Linked DNA regions of Homo sapiens: region 2 is linked to region 1. A link means that fine-mapping ties the variant in region 1 to the expression of a gene that starts in the linked region. Tissue or cell type: whole blood. Region 1 holds a variant in brackets; the other region holds the start of a gene. All regions are shown on one strand. Distances are from middle to middle.

What was found. PIP is the estimated chance that this variant, and not a neighbour inherited with it, causes the effect.
Region 2: LINC01215 starts here. The variant in region 1 is fine-mapped to the expression of LINC01215 in whole blood (INTERVAL, PIP above 0.99).

Annotation. Positions count from the first base shown.
Region 1 is chr3:108,212,141-108,220,251 of GRCh38, reverse strand. IFT57 (intraflagellar transport 57) reads left to right here. Exons shown (of 11, transcript NM_018010.4): 2 at 680-842; 3 at 1,599-1,717; 4 at 6,231-6,321. Among named protein-coding and RNA genes, the nearest start is that of IFT57, 6.2 kb to the left of the region's middle. The variant C/A (reference allele first, on the strand shown) is at 4,589.
Region 2 is chr3:108,120,058-108,128,168 of GRCh38, reverse strand. LINC01215 (long intergenic non-protein coding RNA 1215) reads right to left here and starts at 3,105. Exons shown (of 2, transcript NR_110030.1): 1 at 3,027-3,105. LOC105374031 (a long non-coding RNA gene) reads right to left here. Exons shown (of 8, transcript XR_007095997.1): 6 at 7,726-7,825; 7 at 7,063-7,309; 8 at 5,023-6,672. RefSeq lists enhancers at 2,093-2,192, 2,693-2,772, 2,993-3,042, 3,323-3,462, 3,533-3,582 and 2 more.

The sequences.
Region 1 (8,111 bases):
AGACTAGGGGATTAAGCAAGAGCCCACAGATGTTTGACTGGTGATGTGACATTCACAGGTTCTTAATCCTGACTACACCTTATAAACATGTAGAAATCTTTTGAAATATACCCCATACTGGGCCTACTTTCACTGAAGTTCTGATTTAATTCATTCATGAGGGAAGAAGCAATGTTTGGTCAAGTACCAGTATTTTTATTAGCTCCTCAGGTGATTGAATATGCAGCCAACATAGAAACAAATGTTCACCATAGGTGATAGGTTAGAAACAGTAAAAATGCATAATGAGTAATCGTTGAGGTCTTTTTTAAACTCTGAGGTTCTTCCAGATTACCATTTTCATTCATAAGGTACTTACATATTATTACTGACACTTAAATCATTTTGGCAAAAATTCTACATGCTCTGTGCTCTAACATGCACTACATTTCCTGGGTGTAAGGTCTTTGATCTAATATTTTGGGTACAGTAGTAATTGCCCTAATCCTGCTGATTTAAAAACTTCAATGTGAGTGCTGTGGATTACTGGAAACTTCAAAGGGTGAATTATCGAGGTCTTTTGATGGCCATTTGGGGGGAAGAAAGATTGTTGGACAATTGTGAATTCGGCCCTATTAGTTATTATAGACTTATTTGCATTATTTCACATCCGCCCCCATTCCTCCTTGTTTTGAAACAGACACTATTTTGCACTGCCTACCAACCCTGGCGAACAGTTCTACATGTTTTGTACTCTTGCTGCTTGGTTGATTAATAAAGCGGGACGTCCCTTTGAGCAGCCTCAAGAATATGATGACCCTAATGCAACAATATCTAACATACTATCCGAGCTTCGGTCATTTGTAAGTGTAAACGACCCTTCTTTTTCCTTGTTCTCAAGTTATGAATTTTAATACTGGTAATTTAATAACAAATGCTAGCCATTTAGATGACTCCTCTGTAAATATGAATTTATTTTTAGGTAAAACCTCCTTAAAATAGTTTACATTATAATGTTAATGTCACTTCTGAAAATGTTCAGTATATACTCTTTATTAGTCCAAAGTAATATTTTTTTAAAAAAATCTTGATATATCTGAGAGGTAAATTTTGGGGTGGTTAATTCTTGATCTAAAAAATGATAATTAAAAAAAAATCCTACAAAGCCAAAACACTTCATATTCTGAAAGGGAACTTGTACTTAAGACCATGACAGCAGTTGTACTTTTTCATTTCTGACTTTTCCTGGGCAGGCAGTAAGATATTTTTGGCACAAATGTTATTAATTTTTGACAAGTGAATCACTCTGTCCTTAAACATAGTTGTTTAAATAGTTTTACTGGTTTCTTTTCACTCTAATAAGATCAATAATTTGTTCTGCTGCTATGATGTTATTGCTTTTTAATTTGATACTTTTAACAATAAAAGTCTTTGAGTATTTTTATGTATCAATGGGTTACAAAGACTTGAAATGGATTTGTATGAAGCAGTGTAATTACAGTTATTGTAAATCATTTGAAAGAAAAGTGATACATCCATTCAGCAGTTCTTTGCTTAAAATATTTGACATTTGGAGTATAACTAACAAATAATACCCTGTTTTTTCTTTTGTTTTTCAGGGAAGAACTGCAGATTTTCCTCCTTCAAAATTAAAGTCAGGTTATGGAGAACATGTATGCTATGTTCTTGATTGCTTCGCTGAAGAAGCATTGAAATATATTGGTTTCACCTGGAAAAGGTAAAAATTACCCACCCTGATGATAGTAATTTTATGGGCATAGCATTTGCCTCTGAGGGTACAGAGCTGTTCAATTGAACATAAAAGAATTATTCTTTTTGACTATTCTAAATTGAAAATGCCACAGATAATTAAGAAAAGCCAGTATAGACAAAATTAGAATGTCTCACGTCTTCAAAACTAATTCTGAAGTAATGTGTTACATATTATTATGCCGTTTTCCTGTTCAAATATGTAATTATTAAAGGTTTAACTGTGACTACATATCTTTGTAAATACTGGACTTTTTTTTTAAAGTCTCTTGTACATATGTTCACACACACAAACATAGTATATACACAGAGGGAACTGATAGCTACAGATTTAAGGAAAAATGGAAATTAATACAGTACTTTAAGTGGGATTTTCTCCTTTGCTAGTAGTTACTGGGCAAGAATAATACTGAAGAAACTACCTGACACTCTCCTAGACATTGTTCATTGCTTTTGTGTCCAACCTGACAGTGCTTTATTTCTATTATTATATTATATTTATCCTATGGTATAAAATTGTTCTTTACTATTCTGACATTCTTGCTAGAAATCATGAAATCTTCACAAGTACTCTGTTAGCATAATGCTTGGTGTATCTTAGATGTTTAATAGATATTGAGCATATAGATGAAATAGAACATTTGGAAACTCAATTTATAGAGATTATAATTAGAAAACATAAATTTTATGCTTTGCAGTTTGGGATTACTAATAGGTTAGAATGTAGAAGGCACTATTCAGGTAAAATGCGAGTAAGCAGTGTTTTTTTTTTTTTAATTAGAACTAACTTCGGTAGAAAGATTATATACACACACACACATATATATATATTATTCCCTGTTAATAACATTTTAATGTATATTCAATTATATTCTTTTAGATATAATCTCCCTATTAAGTTTAATAACTTCCTTGAATTAGGTTATCATTGGGATGAGCCATATGAAATTACTCATATTCATCTATTTTTAAACTAAAAAATGGCAATTTCATATGCTTCAATCCAAACATTATTATTTAGTACAATATAAAGAATGGCTACATGGTCCATAATACTTTATTAAATTTCAAGAGAAGATAAGTTATGAGATGTGCTGCTGTATTTAGCATTTTAAAAAACTGCTAAATTAATAGACTAATATATTCTAAATTCACCAGAAGCTATGGTGTAATATCTCAACCACTATTCTATTTTGCACTTCCTTTGTTTCTCAACACATCTTATTCCTGGCCTCTGTATTGTAAGTTGGATAATTTATTTTTTAGTTTTAATTGGCACATAACTGCAAATTTTGGAGTACAATGTGATGTTTCGATACATGTGTACAATATACAATGATCAAGTTAGTGAAATTAACATATTCATCATTTCAAACGTTTATCATTTTATTGTGGCAAGAAAATTCCAAATCTCTATGAGCTATTTTCAAATATATATTATTGTTAATTAATATATAATATTGTGAACTGTAGTCACCCTGCTGTGCATTGAACACTAGAACTTATTCCTCCTAACTGTAACTTTGTACTCACCCACTTTGACCAACTTCTCCCTATTCTCCCTTCCCCCTACCCTTCCCATCCTATGGTAACCACTATTATACTCTCTACTTCTATGATATTTGTCTTTCTGTGCCTGGCTTATTTCACTTGACATAGTGTCCTCCATGCTTATACAGGTTGCTACAAATGACAGAATTGCATTCTCTTTTATGGTTGAATGGTATTCCACTGTGAAAATATACCACATTTTCTATTCAACCTTTGATGGATACTTAGGCAGATTCCGTATCTTGAGTATTGTGAATAGTGCTGCAATAAACATGGGAGTGCAGATATCTCTAACATACCGATTACATTTCTTTTGGATATATCATCAGTAGTGGGATTGTTGGATAATAGAGTAGTGCTATTTTTAGTTTTTTGAGGCACCTCCATAGTGTTCGCTATAGTGTCTGTACTAATAATTTACATACCTACCAATAGTGTTCAAGGGTTACCCCTTCTCCATATCCTCAGCAGCCTTTGTTATTTTGGGGGGCGAGGGGTTGGGTAATAGCCATTCTAACTGGGGTGAGATGATATCGTGGTTTTGATTTGCGTTTCCCTGATGATTAGTGATGTCAAGCATTTTTGCATATATCTGTTGGCCGTTTCTATGTATTTTTTGAGAAATGTCTATTAAGATCTTTTGCTCATTTTAAAAATTAGACTAGTTTTTTTGTTGTTGTTTTGCTATTGAGTTGCTTGAATTTCTTATACATACTGGATGTTAAGTTCTTGTCAGATGGGTAGTTTGCAAATATTTTCTCCCATTCTGTGGGTTGTCTCTTCACTCTTTTGATTGTTTCCTTAAGTTTGATGTAATCGCATTTGTTTATTTTTGCTTTTGTTGCCTGTGCTTTTGAGGTCTTATCCAAAAAATTCTTGCCCAGACCAATGTCATGAAGTGTTTTCTTCCACATTTCCTCTAGTAGTTTCAGTTTCAGATTGTATATTTAAGTCTTTAATCCATTTTGAGTTGGTTTTTATAAGTGGTTAGAGGTAAGGGTCTAGTTTCATTCTTTTGCATGTGGATATCCAGTTTCCCCAGTACTATTTATTTTTCTTTTTTTGTTTTTTAGCACCATTTATTGAAGAGACTGTGACTTGGATAACTTATAAGGACTATGTTTAAATGAGGAATAAAAGGAGGGAGCTGAAAAGTAGTCAACATTAGAGAATATGTCAGCTCTGTAACATGTAAATGAGATAGACGTTACATATAGATGAATTTTTTATATATCTAAATGTCAAAATGAATCCTAGAAGAACATTGCCTTTGAGATATTTTCGAATT[C/A]TAATTAATGAAAAATTAGGAAATTTATTATTTAAGATGATTGATTTAGTTCATAGTATTTTGCATATTAGTAAATGTTGATTTTTGTATTTTTTTAACATGATTGAGGCATGGGTTTTCGTTTTTAAGACAGGGTCTCACTCTGTCGCCCAGGCTGGAGTGAACCTCTGCCTGCCGGGCTCAAGCGATCCTCCCACCTCAGCCTCCCGCATAGCTGGGACTACAGGTGCACACCACCACTCCCAGCTAATTTTTTATTTTTTTTGTCAAGACAGGGTTTCACCATGTTGCCCAGGCTGGTCTCAAACTCCTGGTCTCAGACAGTCCACCTGCCTTGGCCTCCCAAAGTGCTGGGATTATAGATGTGAGCCATCACACCCAGCCAGGTACAAGTTTTTAATACAAGTTTTCTCTCTAGCTTTGTTACTGGATTAAAAAAAGGAAAAAAAATATGTTTTCATAAATAAGCCCAAATACATTTAAGTACTTTTAATATAGGAAATGTGTCATTAATCTTGATGAATAAATGATTTTTTTCAAAGTTTAATGTTAGGATCACTAATTAGATTTTGGAAATAAGAAGAAAGCTGGACTCCTTCTTATTACCTATGTTAAAATAAACTTCAGATTGATCAAAGATGTAAATATGAAAAGTAAAACTATAGAAGTATTAAAAGACCAGAGGAGTATAGAGGTTGTGGTATGACAGAAAGCCTCTAATATATGATGTTAAAGCTAGGGTCTGTGCAGGAAAAGGTTACCAACTCTATCTAAGAAGAACTATAACAATCTTGAATAGCCAAGATTATAAGTAATACACTAGGGGAACAATTTTTGAGAGGTTAGGCAAAACATTAATTTTCTTAATATACAAAAAGCCAAAAAGTAAATGGTATAAATAGACATTTCACCTAAAAAGAAGTGCAAATAAGCAATTAAAATATGACAAGATATTCAATCACTTTCATGCTAAAGAAATGCAGTTAAAACAAGAATGAGATTTTTTTTCACTTGGTTGATTGGCTAAAATTAAAGTTTGTATTATATATCATATTGGTGAATATATGGAGATGGAGTTACTCTCCTTCAGTATTGTTTGGAGTCTAAATTAGGGTAACATTTTGGAAGCCAATTTTGGCAGTATATAGCAAAACAATACTGTACAAAGTTGTTTACCCTGCCATTTCACTTGAACAAATTTATTCTAAATGGTATGTGTAATGATAAATGTACAAAGATGATCTTTGCAATATTGTCCAGCAAAATAATTAGAAACCTCTATGTTCAGTCATAGGCTGCCAATTACATTAATTATGGTATTGATTGTTCAATGAAATACAGTGCTTGTATGTAAAAAATAATGAGAAATACATATGTATTTAAATATGGTGTATTAGTGAGAAGCATTAAGTTGGATAACACCATGCATAGTATCATCTCATTTTTTATAAATTTGGAGATAAACACTTTTGCTTTTTACATAGAAAGTTTTAGGAAAAATACATGAAACATTTAACAGTGATTATGGAAGCGGAATGAAAAAGGACAAAACCTGGCATAGAGGACATGATATTTGCATTATGATTTTTTTGTCTTACTAAATATTAAAATTATCACCTCATGTTTAATCTTATTATTTTAGGCCAATATACCCAGTAGAAGAATTAGAAGAAGAAAGCGTTGCAGAAGATGATGCAGAATTAACATTAAATAAAGTGGATGAAGAATTTGTGGTATGTGTGTAGCTGAACTTTCTGTTCATTTTCACCTTTCGGCCACTTCCCATTCTCTTAATTTCCCCCAGACTTCCATTATCTGGAATATATTTTATTTCATTGTTTCTAAAGAAGAAAAGCTTTTAAATACAGTGCTGAGTATCATCATTTAGACCTTTGGTTAAGTTAATGTTTGTATTCTCTAATGATTGAGGTCTGAATTTTAGCAGAGGTTCTTGAACTGTTCAGGGAAATATATACCACTAGTTATATGAGTAAATACTTTATTAACCATTCATGATGTTAAATAGACTGTGACTAATAAAGAATTTAAAACAGAACAAAAGAATTTAGGATTAATAAATTCTGCTTTATACGCATACCATTCATTTCTAAGGAATTCCTTTATTCATCTACAATTAGGATGAGTAGGAATTTTTTAATGCTTTTAAATGATCAACATTATTTAAGTTGTTTGGCAGAATCTACAACTTTTTACATGTTTTACATGCCATCCATAGTGTGCAGCTAAAGATGACAGAGACAAAATAACTTTTTCTCAAGATAATTCTCAGAACTAGAATTAGATTGACCCTGGTATTTTAGGAAGTGTGCTTGTGATTTGAAGCAGAAATGGTTGGGGGAAAAAACAAACTTTATAGTATACAGCTGACCCTTGAGCAATGTGGGGGTTATGGGCATCGGCCCCCACACAGTTGAATATCCACATATAACTCTGGACTCCCAAAAACTTTACTAATAGCCTACTGTTGACTTGAAGCCTTACCAATAACATAAAGAGTTAACACATATTTTGTCTATGTATTATATACTGTATTCTTACACTAAAAGTAAGCTAGAGAAAAGAAAATGTTACTAAGCAAGCCATAAGGGAGAGAAAACATACATACTATTAAGTGGAAGTAGATAATCATAAAAGTATCTTCCCTGTCTTCATATTGAGTAGCCTAAGGAAGAAGAGCAAGAGGAAGGGTTGGTCTTGTTGTCTCAGGGGTGGCAGAAATGAAAGAAAATTTGTATTTAAGTGGACCCATGCAGTTCAAACCCGTGTTGTTCAAGGGTCAACTATATTTTGCTGTCATAAACCAATTAAAATTTTTAGGTGATTTTTAAAATCAATAGATAATTAGTTTAAAATAAGTAAGTAATTGAAGTTTGGCATTGAGGTTAGTATAGTATAGTATTTAAGTTAGTATATGCATAATTTTAATAGCAAATGCTGAAAAATAACTATTAAATAGATTAGATGCTATCTGAATAGAGTATTATATAGCCATTTGTATTAGTCCATTTTGTGTTGCTGTAAAGGAATACTTGAGGCGCTGGGTAAGTTATAAAGAAAAGAAGTTTATTTTGGCTCACAGTTTTGCAGACCATACAAGAAGTGTAGCACCAGCATCTGCTTCTGGTGAGGGCCTCAGGAAGCTTACAATCATGGTAAGACAAAGTGGGAGCAGGCACCTCACATGGCCAGAGAAGAAGCAGAGGAGGGGAGAAGGACCAGAGACAGAGGAGGGGACATATATCCAAACTATATCACCATTGAAAATTGTTGGGTGGGCATGCTGGCTTATACCTGTAATCCCAGCTCTTCGGGAGGCGGTGGGAGGATTGCTTCAGGCCAGGAGTTTGAGACTAACCTGGGCAATAGAGTGAGTCCTCATCTCTACCAAAAGGAAAAAAGAAAAAAATGCCAGGCATGGTGATTGCTTCAGGCCAGGAATTTGAGACCAACCTGGGCATTATAGTGAGTCCTCATCTCTACCAAAAAAGAAAAAAATGCCAGG
Region 2 (8,111 bases), 92 kb after region 1:
GTTGATTTCTAAACTATTATGCACTGTATTACTTTTAGTTGTCACTATTATTTTATAATTTCAAGCAATTTTACATATCAATTACCAGCTGATTAATTAACATTCCTTTATAAATATTTATTAAGCCTTCACCATGTAACTGGTACTGGTCTAGGAACTGAGGAAGGCAAAGTTCCTGCTCTAGTGAATCTCAGATTTTCTAAATTAATCAAGTAAATATGAGTTTCATTTAAAATAAACTAAGCAACAGGTCGCTAACATAGGTGGTCATATCTTTGCTTGGTTCGATTCTAATAGCAGCTTGGATTCGTCCCAGGATTTGTCTTTGTTGATCTTTCCTGCTGAACTACCTTTTCTTTCTTTCGGTTTCACCATCCTTGATGCTGTGAATCCTGCAGGGAGCTAACAGGCTGGTGTGATAGCTTCTTACTACACCTACAGCTCAGCGAGTCCCGCCACTTGCTTTATACACTTTGATTTTTCTCTTTGCTTCTCTCTCCTATCTGACCCCCCTTTTCCTGAACACTTGCTGCCCCCTATTTCTCTTTTCTTCACTTTTGCTTTACTTCTTTTGCTGCCCCATTCCGTGGGAGACCCTATCTCTGTTTCTTCAGGTGGCCCTGTGGGTGTGAAAGAACAAACTTCTGGGCAGGCATACACCAGTGGTACACCAGCGGTACACAGGAAGACACCCCTCCCAGGAAACAATACCTCTGCCTCTGACACTTCCGGGAGCCTTGTAGCCACAGGAATCAACACATGTCTCTGCAACACTTCAAATTAACTCAGGCCTCAACAAGGCAGAGAGGGGTGTAGCCATACAGGCATGATCAGGGCCAGCTTATCACCATTCACTGGGAGACTGGCTGGAATGTGGATGTGCCGAGTGAAAAGTCAAATGTCTGCCTAATAGCAGAGCCCTCCACTCTGAAACACAAATGGCCCACTACATTCCTCACTCATAATTTTTAAAAATTTTTTAAAAAAATCTTTTACCCTAATGTCCAGTAGGCTATTGAACACTAGCTATCAATTTTTTGCCCTATGCCCTACAGTTAAAAATAAATGGCCAGGCAGGGTGGCTCACACCTGTAATCCCAGCACTTTGGGAGGCTGAGGCGGGCAGATCACAAGGTCAGGAGATCGAGACCATCCTGGCCAACATGGTGAAACCCCGTCTCTACTAAAAATACAAAAATTAGCTGGGTATGGTGGCATGCCTGTAGTTCCAGCTACTTAGGAGGCTGAGGCAGGAGAATTGCTTGAACCCGGGAGACAGGTTGCAGTGAGCTGAGATCATGCCACTGCACTCCAGCCTGGGTGACAGAACGAGACTCCATCACAAAATAAACAAATAAATAAATGTGTGTGCATAAATATGTACACACATATACATATGTATATTTTATATACACAAGTATTTGTATATCTAAAACCAGTTTCACAAAACAGTACCCTCATTACATGCATAGCTCAAATTTTTTAATTTCTTTATAATCTAGTTATCTTAATAACTTTTTAAAATGCTGGTTTTGACCTAGAGATTTTTAACCTTGTGTGTGTGTGTATATGTGTTTGTGTGTGTGTGTGTATCTGTTTGTGTGTATGTGTGTGTGTGTATGCATGTGTGCACGTGCCATTTCTACCCCATGTGATGAAGCCTATGGATCCTTTCTTGTAGTGTTTTTAAATGCATAAAGCAAAACTCTTAGGCTTACAAAGGAAATCAATGATATTGAAATACAATTCTATCCTTGGGCCTCTTGTGGGGAAAGGGCAGTGTCCACAGACCCAGGTTAAGAATCTCTGCATGGGTAAATTGATTTCCCAGCTGACTGCTGAGCCACAACCTGCAGTTTGGAAAATAAGGCTGTACAAAGCCTCAGAACATTTTGTTGTAGTTAAGTATTTCAGATGCTTATTATCCTGTCACGGTTTTAACCCTCTTTTCCCTCCCTTTCCCCATGCTCCCTCTATCCAGTCACCCACACCCCACCACATGCACATGCATGTGTACTCACTTACATGCATGCACATATATGTTGCCACATATCCACATACACATAGGCACACACATGCACAGGCACACACATGCAGATCTTAGGTCACATATCTGGAATGAGATGAGGCACTAGACCACTGGGTCCAGCCCCTCCTGTGACCCCAGTCCCACTCCCTGACTGCCTCTGTGTCACAGCTCCTCTGGCTCCTGCCTCAGAACTACTCTAGTGGCTCATTATCTCTGCAGGGCAGCGCTCACCATCACGACTTTCTTGTTTTCTTTCACAGCATTGTGAGCCAATAGGTGCATTCTGCCTCAGAATAGTGGTGGAGACTGGTGGTGGCACAGCCCAGAGCTCTTGACGTTTATTTTCTCAGGCTTCAGTGAACCTTCTGTGGCAGGTGTTTCCTTTTGATAGGCGGCAGTTCCTCCCTGGGTCACTCCAGCCTGCAGCTGAAGCCCTCACTTAGCTCACTGTGGCTGTACTGAACACACCACCTCCCAACATGGAGCAGCCTAGCCAGGGGGTGCGGGAAGGAAAGATGGTTGCTGCCACAAATGAATGACTCAGCTACCTTCTCCAATGGTTTGATATTGACGTTTCCTCCTGTCATAGCAAAAATGCCCAGGTGAACTGTTTTCTCCATCGCATGTAGAAAGATGATGGTTGTCTGAACTGGTTCCAGGTAATGGACAGTGGTAAGCGCTCCCTTCTCTTATAGTATGTTATGGATTGAAGTGTGTCTCCCCACAAAAAGATATTACTGGAGTCCTAACCCTGAATATTTCAGAATGTGACCTTATTTGGAGATAGTGTGTTTACTGAGGTAATCAAATTTAAATGAGGTCATTACAGTCTCTAATCCAATAAGACTAGTGTCTTATAACAGAAACGAACGCTTACAGAGGGAAGACAATGTAAAGAGACACATGGAGAAGATGGCTGTATTTCCATTCTCATGCTGCTATAAGGACATACCCAAGACTGGGTAATTTATAAAGGCAAGAGGTTTAATTAACTCACAGTTCAGCATGGCTGGGGAGGCCTCAGGAAACTTAGAATCACGGCAGAAGGGGAAGCAAACACGTCCTTCTTCAAGTGGTGGCAGGAAGAGAACTGAGTGAGTAAAATGAGGAAAGTCCCCTTATCAGATCTCCTGAGAACTCACTCACTTTCACGAGAACAGCGTGAAGGTAACTGCCCCCATGATTCAATTACCTCCCCCGGGTCCCTTCCATGACACGTGGAGATTATGGGAACTACAATTCAAGATGGGGTTTGGGTGAGGACACAGCCAAACCATATCAACAGCCATCTGTAAGCCAAGGAGAGAGGCCTGGAACAGATACTTCCCTCGCAGCTCCCAGAAGGAGCCAATCCTGCCGACACCTTGATTTCAGACTTCTGGCCTCCAGATTGTGAGACAAGAACAGCAACTCGGCCTGTGTTCTCTGCCCTTGAGGTTGAAACAGGGAGCAGAAGGTTTTTTTTCCCCTCTGTGTTGCAGCATGGAGTTCTGAATGACAGATGAGGGGTTGATCACCCTCCACACCCATGCTAAGCCTTATGGCTTCACGGGGTTCAGGCTTCCTGTGTTCAGTCTTCTGTGTTGCCAGAAAAATTTGCATACTCCCATGGACAAAGAAAGCAGCAGAGGAGAAAGAAGAGCTTTCATTCACTTCCTCTTTGGGGTGAGAGCAAGTCTGAATGCTCTAGAATTGATTCTATTAGAAAAACTCTCTGACCCCAAATATGAATATTTTCACCACACCCAATACTCATAATTTTAAAAATAGATCTTTTGAGTTTCATCCTGACTAGTAACCTAAAGATCACTGACTTCTGATTTATTTTTTTATCATGCTCTACAGTTAGAAATGCAAACATATAGACTAGAGAGGGCCACAGAGGTGTTTGATCCCATCACTTCATGTAGGTAGGAAGATGTTGAACCCCTGAGAGGGGTCGGAACTTGTCCAAGATCACACAGCAGGCAGAGTACATCAGGACCTCAAACCCATATCTTCTGCCCTCTCCTCCTAAGGTCTCCATCACTAACACCCTGTCACGGTCCATCCTGCTAAGGAAGTCTCTACTATAAAATCCCATACCTTGAAAATTAATTGTTTTTCCACTCACACGTTACCACCCTTCCCTCCTGCAAACATTTGGAAGTTGAAAGGTCGCACAGCCTTCATGAAATTAACCAGAAGAATTGAAAGGAAGCTGATGACAAAAGTACTTCAAAATCTGTTTTTCATGAAAACAGCTTTTTCTTTTCCCCCTCAGATCAAACTGAATTTTTCTTTTTATTTTTGCGGTATTCTTCTAATTGTGCCTTTTTAAATGTGTTTGAAATAGTTCTTTGTTTCTGTAGATTAATCACCTTTCAATGCTCTCCTTTTTTAAAAAAAACAAAATTTTAAAACTTTTAAATAAAATTTTCATTTGTTAACTCTCAGTCCTTCTCCTTTATCATAATTCACTTTTCCTATCATGTTCAGTGAATTATACAATTAATTACTTTTTCAGCTTGCAAATGGTTTGCTATTGTATATGTCATGTTTTCTTTTGGATGAGAAAACACTTATTTCACACAATAGTGCCATTGCTTTTATTATTCTTCCTGTCACTGAGAGGGGGGAAAGACCAAGAACCAAACAATAAGACTTTTATTTACAGCTACTGGAAAGCTGTCCTGAAGGTCGCTACAAGCCTCTGCCATTGTGTGCTTCCATCTTGGACATGCCATCCGAGATGCCTAGAATGGCAGGGGTCTTCCAGAGCATGGAGTCTTATCTCGTTTCACAGTTGAAGAAACTGAGGCACATAGGTCCTCCCAGGGCCATGCAGCTACCTAATGCCAGATCCGGAACTAAACTTCAGGTTCTTGACTCCCAACCCACTGTCTTTTCCACTGCCCAGAAAATCCCAGGAATTCTTTCCAAGCTCCCTGAATTCATCCCAAGCTAGTGTTGCAATCCATTTGCTTTTATCTCAGCAGCGTTGGAAAAAAGGGGCTGTCATGAATCCTGGCTCAATAATAGGAGTTTACATAATAATTTGCATAATCTGGTTGATTAGTTTCATGTTGCGCCAGCTCCAGCCTTCAAGTCATCTTCATAAGTTCTTTCGTGTATCAGAATCCAGAAGCTGTCAGGAGGAATCTGCACATGGGCTTGTGGGGGTAAGAGGATGGGATCTGGTGTCAGACCTGGGCAAGTTATTAACCTCCCTCTGCCTCCACTTTCCCTGATATAAAATAAGGATACTGAGAGCATCTCTGTCATGTTGCCTTTTTTCAGGATTACATGAAAAAAAAGTAGGCTTAATATTCATAACAACTCAATAAATATTTATTATTCTTGCTACCAATGAGGACATACTATTTGATAGGGGTTTAATAAAAGTTTATAAGGAAATATAAAACCGTAATTAGTGCAACTGCAACAGTTGTGGTGTGGTGCAGTAGAAATCATTCTGGGCTATGAATTGGGATATCTGAGCCCCAGATTCAACTTCACCATGAATGAGCTATGTGGCCAGCAAGGAGCTGTCTCTCCTCTCTCGGTCAGTTTCTTAACCAACAAATCTAATCCTAATCTCCAAATGGGAGAGAGGAACTCCCTGAAAAGTACAATTTAACTGACTCACAACCTGTCAAAGCTACCCAATCTTACAGCAGAAGAAGGGGAACCCCTGCCAAGAATTATTGTCCCCTGCTCAATGAGGAAGGTGATTCCTTGGTCCGCCTCCATGAGGAAGATAATTGTTGGGCCATCACTCTGAAGCATCCTGGCCCTAAAGCAGGAATAATTCCACCCTTGCCTTCATGGGAGCCACCTGCCTGAGCTCAAGCCGGAGAAAGGAGCAGATGAACAATGAATGTCACAGCAATTCGTTTTGGCAATTAGGCAGGCAATTAGTTCTGCAGCATGTAGAATGGGAGGAGAAAGTAAATCAGCACTGAGAGGTGACAGGGAAATATGATTAGGACATCAGGTGCCAGTGACACCCAGGTGGAAAGTCATGCATTAGGGTCCCAGCCTCCCCTTCCCCACCACCGCCACGACAAAGGAAGGAGCTTTCCAGAGACCCTGGAAAACAACTGCTTTAATAGAAGGGGCGTTCCACCCTCTGTTCTAGCCTCTTTCTCAAGGACATCTCATGCCTCCAGTGTTCACTCCAGGCTATGATCTTGCTGATTTCTCACCAAAAATTCTGCCCAGTGTCAAATAACTGAAGCAGTAGTTTCCTGGAGATTGTCTTCTCTTAGCTGCAAATACATTTGTTTTGTTTTTATAGCTTTGGTAGCTCCTTTCTAAAGACAAATTAATTTCACATTTTTCTTGGGGGTAGGTAGGAGGCAGATACTAAATCAGTGTATGATATTGTGGGGCATGGGGTTGTGCTTTGAAATCAAGGACCTGGGCTTAGATTCCAGCTCCACTACTTACCTAGGCTCCTACCTTTAGTTTCCTCAGCTCCAAAAATGGGCATAATAACAGGATTTCCAGGTAAAATACATGACATTTCCATATCTCTTGTCCAAGGACAAATTAATTTCACACTTTTGGGAGTGTATGTTTTATTTAAAAATCATTTGTTTTGATCTGAAATTCAGATATAACTGGATATCCTCTATTTTTATTTGCTACATCTGGGAACCCTAGAATAAAATAATAATACTTACATCAGAAAGTTAATGAGAAGATTAAATCAAGAACCATATTAAAAACCCCTAATGGTGTGCCTAATTGGGAAGTTGAGGAACAATTAAAGTTTCTTTCTTCTTGCTTTCCTCTGCCATTCTCATCTGAAAGGTTAGACATCTTCTGTACAGCCTGGAAGTATAGAGCAATGCCAGTAGCAGTGGACTGGTTTTGACTCAAGACAAGGAAAGACACTTCTAATGGGTTGACTGAGGCAAGGGGTCCAAGCCCAGGCCCAGATGCCTCCTGAAGAGAAGACTCAAGCATCAGAAGAGTGGCTGGACATGACATTTAAGGTCTCTTTCTACCTGAGTTTCTGAACTAGTATTTGGAGCTTCTTTTCTTACGATTAAGCACTGGGAACAGCTTCAGAGGACCCAGAAGTACAATTAGGAAGTGTGATGACACAGGGAGCACCCAGCGCAGCAGCAATTTGTCCAGAGCATTCACAGTGATTCTTAGGAAAAGTCAGGGATGGAATCCAGTGCTAGATTTCACACGTCGAGGTACTCTGCTGGTGTTCTGATGATCCTCCTCACCAAAGGCACCTTCAGGTTTTGTGAGGCATGAGGCTTATACAATTATGGGAGCCCTCTTTAAGAAGAAGAATGCAAAATTGCAAATACAAAATTAGGCATGAAAGCGAATATTTACTTAGAATGAGAAATTATATCATGACAAATTACAGGAGTGCTGGAGAATTAGTTCCTTTTCTTCTGAGATCCCTTTAAGCAATTTACCCAAAATGCTGACATAGAAATGTTTCCTGATTGTAACCCAGCTTCCTCTCTCCACCTGGAACTCTATCACTCTTAGCAACCCAGGCTCTCACAGGGGCCGTGCATGGGAAAGGACCTGTAACTCAGGTCCTTTATTTATTAAACTTTATTCATTTTATGATAGATCTTCTCTTGTAACCAAGTATTTTTGAAATATAATTTTATTCTTTTATTTTTAATTGATACATAATAATTATATATACATATGGGGTACAAGTGATATTTCCATACCTGTATACGATGTTTAATGATCAAATAAGTGTATTTAGCATATCCATCATCTCAAACATTTATCATTTGTGTTGAGAACATTCAAATTCCTCTCTTCTAGCTGCTTTGAAAAACACAATAAATTTTTATTAACGATAGTCATCCTACTGTGCAATGGAACACTAGAGCTTATCTAACTGTAACTATTCTTATTTTTTATTTTTTTGAGATGGGGTTTCAAAAATGTTTAAGCCTGTCACCCAGCCTGGAGTACAGTGTGTGATCATGGCTCACTGCAGCCTGGACCTTCCCAGGCTCGGGTGATCCTCCCACCTCAGCCACCTGAGTAGTTGGGACTACAGGCACTTGCCACCATGCTTGGCTAATTTTTTAAATTTTTGTACAGA